Linked DNA regions of Homo sapiens: region 2 is linked to region 1. Evidence: fine-mapped expression QTL. A gene starts in region 1. The other region holds a variant in brackets. All regions are shown on one strand. Distances are from middle to middle.

Region 1 (5,381 bases):
GAAACCCTGTCTCTGCTAAAAATACAAAAATTAGCCGGGTGTCGTGGTGCGTGCCTGTAGTTCCAGCTACTCGGGAGGCTGAGGCAGGGGAATTCCTTAAACCCGGGAGGCAGAGATTGTAGTGAGCCCAGATCCAGCCACTGCACTCCAGCCTGGACGACAGAGCAAGGCTCTGTCTCAAAAAAAAAAAAACATATACACACACACACACGCGCGCGCACACACACACACACACACACACACACATATGTATCCTAAAATATCCGAATTTCTGCCAAAAATCTGCATAACTACCTTATCTCATAATGGACAAGATTATTAATAGGATTTTTTAAATACAGAATTAATAGTAACTAATATAAACGTTACTTTTTTGTTATAATGTCTCAACACTTAGACCAGCACCTGGAATGCCCGTACAGTGGTGTCAACACTCTCCAAAATATATGTAATAAATTTATATTGCATTTATTTGTCTCCATTTTTATGAAACCTTAAGTTAGCAGATGCACATTAGATCTTTATCATATAGGACAGTGCAACCAGAAGAACGCCTATGTTTTTCTAACTTGTTTTCTTGGAATATATTCACTTTCCACAAAAACGAGAATTTAAGATGCAGTGTTCCTGTTTCCGGGAAACCTTAAATATTACATCACCCAACACACCTCCGAAAAGAGAGAACAAGACGCTTTATATCTATGACTAGAATCCTACCTATTCCTAACTTTAGAGACCATGAATAGAAAATTAAAATATATCTTAAATACTTGTTTTCCTGCAAATAAAATTACAAATAAACAAGTTAGGATTACACACTTGTACAGTATTCCTAAACATGAATTAGTTGCTAATGCTTATGAAGAGTAATAGAAAATAAACTCCAAAACCCCTAAAAGTATAAACTACATTCAATTGTGACAGCATTCGTGTTTTTCAAAGGTTTATTAAATGCTGTTTTATGATGACATCAAAACGCCACAAAATTAAACTAATAATAACTTGCTTGAACCCTAAAAAGCAAGCCTTTAAGTAAATAGCAAAGACACATTTTTATTTCCAAATGAATTTAAATGTTACAGATCCTGTGTGATAAAGGAAGTTTAACTGTGGACAGCACACGTTAAATTTCTTAGGCAACAAACATTTCTCCATGCAGTCTTTTCTGAATCACCAAAGCTATTGTTCACAGAAAACGAGACCAATTAATAAGAAACTGCTAACCGTATAATCTAAACACACATTTGTCATAGCCATTCTATTTTGATCACCTACTTCTACCACCTCATCCTCATTCAACCCGTCGGGATTTGGGGAATAATCTGGCTGAATGACAGTTGATTTCGTTAGCACCTGTCGCCATTCTCAGATGTATCACACAAGTTGGCCAAAACAGCTTGTAATGTTTAAGGATTACGATTCTTTAGAAAGTGGCAACTCACTAGGCGTTCACCAAGTTTTCCAAAAGATCGTGCTTCTCGATTCCTCCCGCTTTCAAAAAGTAACCCTGTGGCACAGATTTTTGGGGGGAACGGAAGGGGATGTACACAATGAAGTGGGAATTCAACAGGACGCCCTCCAGAAACACAATCAATAGAGAGCAGAGCAGCTCGACTCTTCCCTCAAACTTAGCATAAAGCCAGACCAGGCGGCGAGGGCAGCCCGCGACCGCCGGAGCTCAGGGGGATTTCGGGGTGCGTCGTGGGGAAACGTCAGAGGCGAAGCTACTCCGAGTTCCCCGCCGCGAACGTCGTCCCGCGAGCGCCGCGGCCCCAGCCCGGGGTCGGCGCGCCCGGGACCGGGGGCGTGCGCGAGGCGAGGGCCGAGCCCTGCCCACCCCGGCAGCGGCCCGCGCCTCCCCACGCCCCTCTCCCGCCCGCCGGCGGGCCCGGGTGTCATGCCCCTTCCCCTCGCGCCGAGCCCTCCGGAGACACAGTCCGTCCTTTGTCTGAGTGCGGACTCGGCGGCTGGGTCCCACCAACTTGTGTCTGTCCCGTCCCACCCGGGCGCTCCCGCCGCGGCCGCGCCACACAAAGGAGACTTGAGGCTCGAGCTGCCACCCTGGACCGGGCACCGGAACGCCCCGACCCCGGCCCCGGCGCCCCGGCCAGGACAAGCACCGGGAAAGGAGCCCCCCACACGCCCCCCGCCCCGCAGCTCCAGGGGTGTGCGCTGCCTCACTCGCAGGGTCCCGCGGGCCAGCCCGAAGCTCACAGCTCCTTCCGGGGAGGGGGGCTCTCCCCTCACCCTCCACCCCCCGCACGCCTACAAACGCGGCGCCCCGGTGAGCCCCGCTCGGCGATACCCGGGACCGGCACAGCAGTGGCGGGGAGGTCCTGGCGCCGCCGCCGCCGCCCGGTTCGCACTCCCGGAGCCCCGCCGGCCGGGCCGCCCGCAGCGGCGCGTTACCTTCGTCCCGCGCGCCGACTCGCGTTGTTCCCGCGCGTCGCCCCCGCGCGCCGCCGCCGCCGCCGCCGGGGCTCCACTGCCTTCTGAGTCCCACCGGGTGTCGGACGCGACCGGACCGAGCGCCAAACGCGGCAGCCCAATCGCCATCGCTTTTATTTGGCCCCCCCAGCCCAATCAAGCGCCGCCCCGATTGGCGGGACGCGAGGCGGGCGCCCGTCCAATCACAGGGCCCGCCGGGCTCGGAGGCGCCGAGCCAGCCCCACGCAGAGTGCGCTCAGGGCTCGTGGGCGGGCGGGCACTGGCAGCGCGTGCGCGCGCGGGCGGCGGCGGGGTTCGCTGTAAGGGACGCCACTGGCCGTGTGGAAGCGCCGCCGCCGTCTCTTTGTTCTTTCGCTGAACACACGGCGCCTCTCAGGAAGGCGGTGTGCAGGCACGCGGGGACCGGGAGACATCGCGGGGGCCCGGAGCCCGCCGCGGACGGGAGGCGGGGAGGATAGGTGGCGGGAACCGGCCGAAGGGCGGGACGAAGCGCCGGCGGCTCTTGGCGGGAACCGGCGCCGCAGAGTTCCCGGGCGGGGGAGGGGCGGGGCGGGTGCTGGAAGCCAAGTTTGAACCAGTTCAAAACTCGGGGGTGGTAACGGTTTTAACCGCCGCGCTCGTTTCCCCGCGCGCGGAGCCGAGGCCCGGGCTGGCCGCTCCTAGTGGTGCCCGGGGAGGGGAGGGCGCGGGCCCCGGAGGTCGGCTCAGCTGTGGCGCCGCGTTTGCCGGGAGACGCTCGCCCGGCCCGCGCGCTGCCGCCGGACCCGTTACTACTTTTTTTTTTTTCTCCTGAGACGGAGTTTCGCTCTGGTTGTCCAGGCTGGAGTGCAATGGCGCGATCTCGACTCACCGCAACCTCCGCCTTCCGGGTTCAAGCGATTCTCATGCCTCAGCCTCCCGAGTAGCTGGATTACAGGCATGCGCCACCACGCCCGGCTAATTTTCTATTTTTAGTAGAGACGGGTCTTGGTCAGGCTGGTCTCGAACTCCCGACTTCTGGTGATCCGCCCGCCTCGGCCTCCCAAAGTGCTGGGATTACAGGCGTGAGCCACCGCCGCCGACCCGGGCCCTGTTTGATTATGTCTGCTGCTGCCTTGGCCGTTTTTTCCCCCACCGCTGGACTTTGGCTGGCCGAGCTTGCAGTGCTTATCGCCCTAGAAACCTGTGAAAGGGCGACATTGCTGCCATTTCAGACCCTTCCACTGTTCGTAGTTCTAAGCACGTGTCAGTGTTAAAAATCCTTTATCAAGATGAGCACTGTTCACTTGCCGCCTCTGCAAAGTGTGAGGATATTTGCAAGGCGCGGTGGCTCACGCCTGTAATCCCAGCACTTTGGGAGGCCGAGGCGGGCGGATCATAAGGTCAGGAGATCGAGACCATCCTGGCTAATAACGGTGAAACCCCGTCTCTACTAAAAATACAAAAAATTAGCCGGGCGTGGTGGCGGGCGCCTGTAGTCCCAGCTACTCGGGAGGCTGAGGCAGGAGAATGGCGTGAACCCGGGAGGCGGAGCTTGCAGTGAGCCGAGATCACGCCACTGCACTCCAGCCTGGGCGACAGAGCGAGACTCCATCTCAAAAAAAAAAAAAAAATTGATCTTGGTTATGGGGGGTCAAGCTACCTCAACCCAGAGGAATTAGAGGGATTCTGCTTAGGATACAGTCTCTCCTATTGCTTCATGTGGCAATGCAGTTAAGAGTATTCCGAATTTATTTTTACTAGGATGTATCTATGGGGTAAAATACCATTGTCATGTAAACTGAGATTCCATATTGAGAGTTCATACTGGAAACTGAAAAAAGGTCACCTATGAACTGTTGGGGTAAAAATCTGAAGAAATATTTTTAATGAATTTAATAACTAGCCAGAATTTTTTTTTTTTTTTTTTTTTTAAGAAACGGAGTCTCACACTGTCGCCCAGGCTGGAGTGCAGTGGCACCATCTCAGCTCACTGCAAGCCCCGCCTCCCGGGTTCACACCATTCTCCTGCCTCAGCCTCCCGAGTAGCTGGGGACCACAGGTGCCTGCCACCACACCCGACTAATTTTTTGTGTTTTTAGTAGAGACGGGGTTTCACCGTGTTAGCCAGGATGGTCTCGATCTCCTGACTTTGTGATCCGCCCGTCTCGGCCTCCCAAAGTGCTGGGATTACAGGCGTGAGCCACTGCGCTGGGCCAGAATTTTTCATCAGATGATTTAGCCCATAATTTTCCCGCCTTTCCTAAATCACCATCCCATTCCTCACATATATTCTGAATCACTCCAATGTTGGAAAGTATATATAAAGGGAAGCTAAAAGATAAGGAGAAACAAGCAATCATGTGCCCAGATAAAAGCAAAATTGTCTTGTGAATCAGTGATAACACTGCAAAAAGTAAATAGGTTATGCAGCTGAGATGTGACTGTAAAATAACGTAACGAATTATAGCTGCCATTACTTCCAGTCACGAATACATTCATTCTCCAAGATAAAATGCATCTGTCTAGGCCACCAATTTACAATTTTTTAAAACCAGCAATTTAAACCTCAGAAATTAACTACTTATCCCTAAGTTGCTTATCAAATTACTGAACTTATCAGTCCTGTAATACTAAATATTAAAACAAGGCATTTTTAAGAGGAAGATCAACGAAATTAGAGACTACCATAAAGCAAATCAAAGCAGTATATAACTCTGCAACATGGTGTGAAATGTCATGTAAATTGCTAGACGTTTAGAATCAAGGAATGGATGGATCAAGATATTCCAGGCCAGACTTAGTGGTTCACACCTGTAACCCCAGTACTTTCAGAAGTCGAGGTGGGAAGCTCCGAGACCAGCCTGGGCAACATAGCAAGACCCTATCTCTACAAGAAATTTAAAAAATAACTGAGTGTGGTGGCACAGAAGTACCTATGGTCCCACCTGCCCCTGAGGCTGAGGTGAGGGGTC
Region 2 (5,381 bases), 140 kb before region 1:
TTCTCCATATAGTTCAGTTGATTTAAAGCTGAGATAAAAATACTGTGAAGCTAAGACTGTGTGTCATCAGAGCTATATAAGATCTGCTTTCACTCCTGCCTCTGCTGACTCAGCCTGGATTCAAAGCACAGTTGATCCTGTTCTTTAGGCGAAGGTGCCCTAAACCGGGGGCACCTCTCGGGCTGCCATGTAAACTTCGTGTCCGTTGAGCACCTTTTTATATGCTCGTTGACCATTCGTATGTCATCTTTTGTAAAGTGTCCAAGTCTTTCGCCTCCTGTTTTTTCCATTTTGGGGATATTTTGCTTTTTGTTAGTTTTAGTTCTTTATATGTCAAGGATACCAGTGTTTTGTCAGATATATTTTGCTAATATTTTCTTCAAGTCTGAGGCTTGCTAATCATTTTCTTAATGGTGTCTTTGGGTGAGCAAATGTTTACTTTGGGGAAACCTAATTTATTGGTTTTATTTTATTTTTGCAGTTATTGCCTCTGTGACATAAGAAACCTTTGCCTAGATCTCAAATATATTTTGTGTTTTCCTCATAAGACTTTATGGTTTGGGCATTTACTTTTAGACCTGTGATCCACCTGGAGTTAACTTTTGTATATGGTGTACAGTAAGGCTTAAGGTTAAATTTCCCCTGTGTGGATATCCAATTATTCCAGTGTCATTTGTTGAAAAAAACTTTTCCTCAATGGACTGTCAACTTCTTGTCAATGTCTACCCCAAAAGTTGATTGATTGGAATGGTATTGAATTTTTTTAATGGCTTTTTTTTTTTTTGAGACAGTTTTGCTGTTTTTGCCCAGGCCGGAGTGCAATGGCGCAACCTTGGCTTACTGCAATCTCCACCTCGCAGGTTCAAGTGATTCTCCTGCCTCAGCCTCCTGAGTAGCTGGGATTACAGACGCACGCCACCACGCCTAGCTAATTTTTTTGTATTTTTAACAGAGACAGGATTTCACCATGTTGGCCAGGCTGGTCTTGAACTCCTGACCTCCAGTAATCCACCTACCTCGGCCTCCCATAGAGCTGGGATTACAGGTGTGAGCCATTGTGCCCAGCCTTAATGGCTCTGAGATCTAATTCACATAGCATACAATGCACTCATTTAAAGTGTACGTTTCAATAGTTTCTGGTATATTCACAGATAATGTTCAACTGTCACATTCAATTTTAGAAGATTTTCATCATCTCAAAAAGAAACCCTGTGCCCTTTAGTTGTCACTTCCTTCTTACCCCTACCTTCTACTAATGTACTTTGTCTCTATAAATTCACCTATTCTGAACATTTTGTATACATGTAACTATATGATATGTGGTGTTATGGACTTAATTGTGCCTCTCCTCCATTCATATCTTGAAGCCCTAACCCCCAGTATATTTGGATGGTATTTGGAGGTAAGGCTATTTGGGGGAATAATTAAGGTTAAATAAAATCGTGAGGGTGGGGCCTTACCCTGATAGGATTGGTGTCCTTATAAGAAGAGGAAGAGACACCAGAGAGCTCTCTCTCCACATACACAGAGGAAAGGCCATGTGAGGACACAGTGAGAAGGTGGCCGTCTGCAACCCTGGAAGAGAGCCCTCACCAGAAACCAACCCTGACAGTACCTTGAGCTCGGACCTCTAGTCTCCAGAACTGTGAGAAAATAAATTCCTGTTGTTTAAGCCGTCTTGTCTGGTATTTTGTTATGGCAGCCTAAGCCGACTAATACATGTGGTCTTTTGTGACTGGCTTTCTTCCATTTAGTATAATGTTTTCTAACTTCATCCATGTTGTAGCATATGTCAGTACTTCATTTTTATGGTAAAATAAGATTCCATTCTGTGGATATACCACATTTTGTTTATCCATTCATCAGGTGATGGACAGTTGGGTTATTTCCAACTTTTTACTATTACGAATAGTGCTGCTGTAAATATTTGTGTACAGGTTTCTATGTAGACATATGTTTTCATTTTTCTTAGATGCCTACAAGTGTTATTTCTGGGTCAGATGGTAACTGTGTGTTTAACCATTTGCAGAACTGCCAAATTATTTTCCAAAGTGGCTGCATTATATTACTTTCCCACCAGCAGTGTATGAGGGTTCCAGTTTCTCCACATTCTGGCCAACACTTGTTGTGTTGTGTTGTATTTATTTATTTAGTTA[TTTAC/T]TTACTTATTTTGAGACAGAGTCTTGCTGTAATTCAGGATGGAGTGCGTGGCGAGATCTCAGCTCACTGCAACCTCCTCCTCTTAGGTTCAAGCGATTCTCCTGCCTCAGCCTCCCGAGTAGCTGGAACCGCAGGTGTGCATCACCATGCCCAGCTAATTTTGGTGTTTGTAGTAGAGACAGGGTTTCATCACGTTGGCCAGGCTGGTCTCGAGCTCCTGGCCTCAAGTGATTCTCCTGCCTCAGCCTCCCGAGTAGCTGGAACCGCAGGTGCGCATCACCATGCCCAGCTAATTTTGGTGTTTGTAGTAGAGACAGGGTTTCATCACGTTGGCCAGGCTGGTCTCGAGCTCCTGGCCTCAAGTGATTCTCCTGCCTCAGCCCCCCAAAGTGCTGGGATTGCGGGCATGAGCCACCACATCCGGCTCAACACTTGTTATTTTCTGACTTTTTGATTCTAGCCATCCTAGTGGGAATGAAGTAGTATCTCATTGTGGTTTTGATGTTCACCCTTATTGAAAATCAGGTCCACAGATTCATGAGTTTATTACTGTCATTTTGTAGTAAGTTTAGAAATTGTGATGTTTGAGTCCTCCAATGTTGTTCTTTTTGTAGATTATTTTGGCTCTTTTGAGTCTCTTGAAATTCTATATGTATTTTGGAATCAGCTTGTTAACTTCCTACAATGAAGCCAACTGGGATTCTGATAGGGATTACATTGAATCTTTGGATCAATTTGGGGAGTATATTAGTCTGTTCTCATACAGCTAATAAAGATATACCCGAGACTGGGTAATTTATGAAGGAAAGAGGTTTAACGGACTCAGAGTTCCACGTGGCTGGGGAGGCCTCACAATCATGGTAGAAGGCAAAGGAGAAGCAAAGTCATGTCTTACATGGCAGTAGGCAAGAGAGCTTATGCAGGGAAACTCCCATTTATAAAACCATCAGATTCTATGAGACTTATTCACTACCACGAGAACACTATCGGGGAAACTGCTTTCATGGTTTGGTTATCTCCACCTGACCTTGCCCTTGACAGATGGGGATTATTACAGTTCAAGGTGCTATTTGGGTGGGGACACAGCCAAACCATGTCAGGGAGTATTGCCATTTTAATTAATAATTCTTAAATCTTTCTACCTTTTCTGGTTTTTTTTTTTTTTTTTTGAGTTGGAGTCTCACTCACTCTGTTGCCCAGGCTGGAGTGCAGTGCATGTTCTTGGCTCACTGCAGTCTCTGCCTCCCGGGTTCAAGCGATTCTCCTGCCTCAGCCTCCTGAGTAGCTGGAATTACAGACATGCACCACCACGCCCAGCTAATTTTTGTATTTTTAGTAGAGACTGGGTGTTTGACCATGTTGGCCAGGCTAGTCTCAAACTCCTGACCTCAAGTGATCCACCTCCCTCAGCCTCCCAAAGTGCTGGGATTACAGGCATCAGCCATCATGCCCAACTCTTTCTACCTTTTCTGATATAAGTATTTGAAAGTATAAATTTCCTTTTAAGGATTTTTAGCCTTATTCTGCAAATTTTGATATGTTGTATCTTCATTACCATTTAATTCAAAACACTTTATTTGACCTTTGAATTATATAGGAAGATATTGTTTAGAAATATTGGATTTTCCCGGGTAGCTTATTGTTACTAATTCCTAATTATAATTCCATTTTGATCAGAGAACACACTGTATAATTTCCGTCCTTTTAAATGTATTGAAACGTGTTCAGTGGCCCAGAAAATAGCCTATCTTGGTGAATGTGCCATGTACTCTTGAAAAGAATGTGGGTTCTGCAGCTGTTGGCTGTAGATGGTGATGTGCTGGAGCTGGATCAGATCAGCTTGCGGGAGATGATTGTGCCCATCTCTCTCCCATCTCCCTGTGTGATATTGTCCTGTTGGTAGCTTGCATCTGCCATGGTGGGAACCTTATACAATAGACATCTATGGAGGCTACAAATCAGGGCTTTTCTTTTTTTCTTTTCTCCCTGCTCAGAGAGCCAATTTACCAGTATACCACTGGGTGTAGAATGTTACAACTGCCCATACAGATCATCCAAGTTGTGATTGATATTTTTCCTATGGTCTAGTTGCTGAGAGGAATGTTGAATCTTATCCTATGATTGTGAAATTGTCTCCTTTACCCTTTAATTCTGTCAAATTTTCATATATTTTAAGCCAGGTGTGGTGGCTCACATCTGTAATCCCAGCACATTGGGAGGCCAAGGCGGGCAGATCGCCGGAGGCCAAGGCGGGCAGATCGCCTGATGCCAGGAGTTCAAGACCAGCCTGGCCAACGTGATGAAACCCTGTCTCTACTAAAAATACAAAAATTAGCCGGTCATGGTGGTGGGCGCCTGTAGTTACTCTGGAGGCTGAGGCAGGAGAATCGCTTGAACCTGGGAGGTGGAGGTTTCAGTGAGCCGAGATGGCACCACTGCACTCCAGCCTAGGTGACAGAGCAAGACTCCATCTCAAAAAACAAATTTTTTTTCATATATTTTGAAACTCTGTTGTTAGACAAAAATACATTTGCGAATATGTCTTTTAAGTACATTTATTATGAAATGTGTCCCTTTTTATCCCTGGTAGTAATTTGTTGCCTGATAGTTATTAGCTTCTTTAACCTCTTTCTATGCTTAATGTTTGCATGATAATCTTTTTCCATCCATTTGCTTTCAACTTATGTGTATTTTTATATTTAAATTGTGTCCCTCATGTCAACATATAGAGCGGTCTTGCTGCTTTGCCCCTTCTGACCATCTCTGTCTTTTAATTGTAGTTTTAGCCCATTAACATTTGTTATAATTATTAATAGATTAATTTTAGGCCTACCATTTTGTTTTTTTCTCCCCTTAAAAAGTTTCTTTGTTCTTGCTTTCCACCCTTCTTTAGGATTATTTGAAATTTTTTTATAGTTCCTTTTTAATATATTTGTTGGTTGTTTCTGCAGTGTGTGTGTGTGTGTGTGTGTGTGTGTGTGTGTGTGTGTGAAAGAGAAGAAGGAATAAAGAGATTGCTCTAAGGATATAATACACATTTTTCTTAACATTCCACTTAGAGTTAAGATTGTATGACATCATAGAAAATGTAGAGGAATTGTGGTTGTATAGTTCCATTTACTACTCGTATCGCTCTCCTTTATATTACCTCTACATATGTTTTTAAACCCACAAGACGATATTATAAATTTTTGTTTTAAACCATCCTTTGTATTTTAAAG

Alleles and levels. Positions count from the first base shown, and alleles are read on the strand shown. Sizes are in standard deviations (SD) of each study's normalised expression.
With allele T in place of TTTAC in region 2, the expression in monocytes after interferon gamma of the gene that starts at base 2,537 in region 1 is lower (moderate effect, 0.56 SD a copy in Fairfax 2014).

What was found. PIP is the estimated chance that this variant, and not a neighbour inherited with it, causes the effect.
Region 2: its variant is the best candidate, but not a certain one, in a credible set for the expression of EZH2 in monocytes after interferon gamma (Fairfax 2014, PIP 0.51).

What each region holds. Positions count from the first base shown.
Region 1 is chr7:148,881,755-148,887,135 of GRCh38, forward strand. It overlaps EZH2 (enhancer of zeste 2 polycomb repressive complex 2 subunit), which reads right to left and starts at 2,537. Exons shown (of 20, transcript NM_004456.5): 1 at 2,410-2,537. LOC124901767 (a long non-coding RNA gene) reads left to right here and starts at 3,435. Exons shown (of 2, transcript XR_007060579.1): 1 at 3,435-3,729; 2 at 4,603-5,381. RefSeq lists silencers at 1,701-2,290, 2,451-2,820, 2,941-3,170 and an enhancer at 1,791-2,482.
Region 2 is chr7:148,739,288-148,744,668 of GRCh38, forward strand. All of the region lies in intron 2 of CUL1 (cullin 1), which reads left to right. Among named protein-coding and RNA genes, the nearest start is that of CUL1, 43 kb to the left of the region's middle. The variant TTTAC/T (reference allele first, on the strand shown) is at 2,157.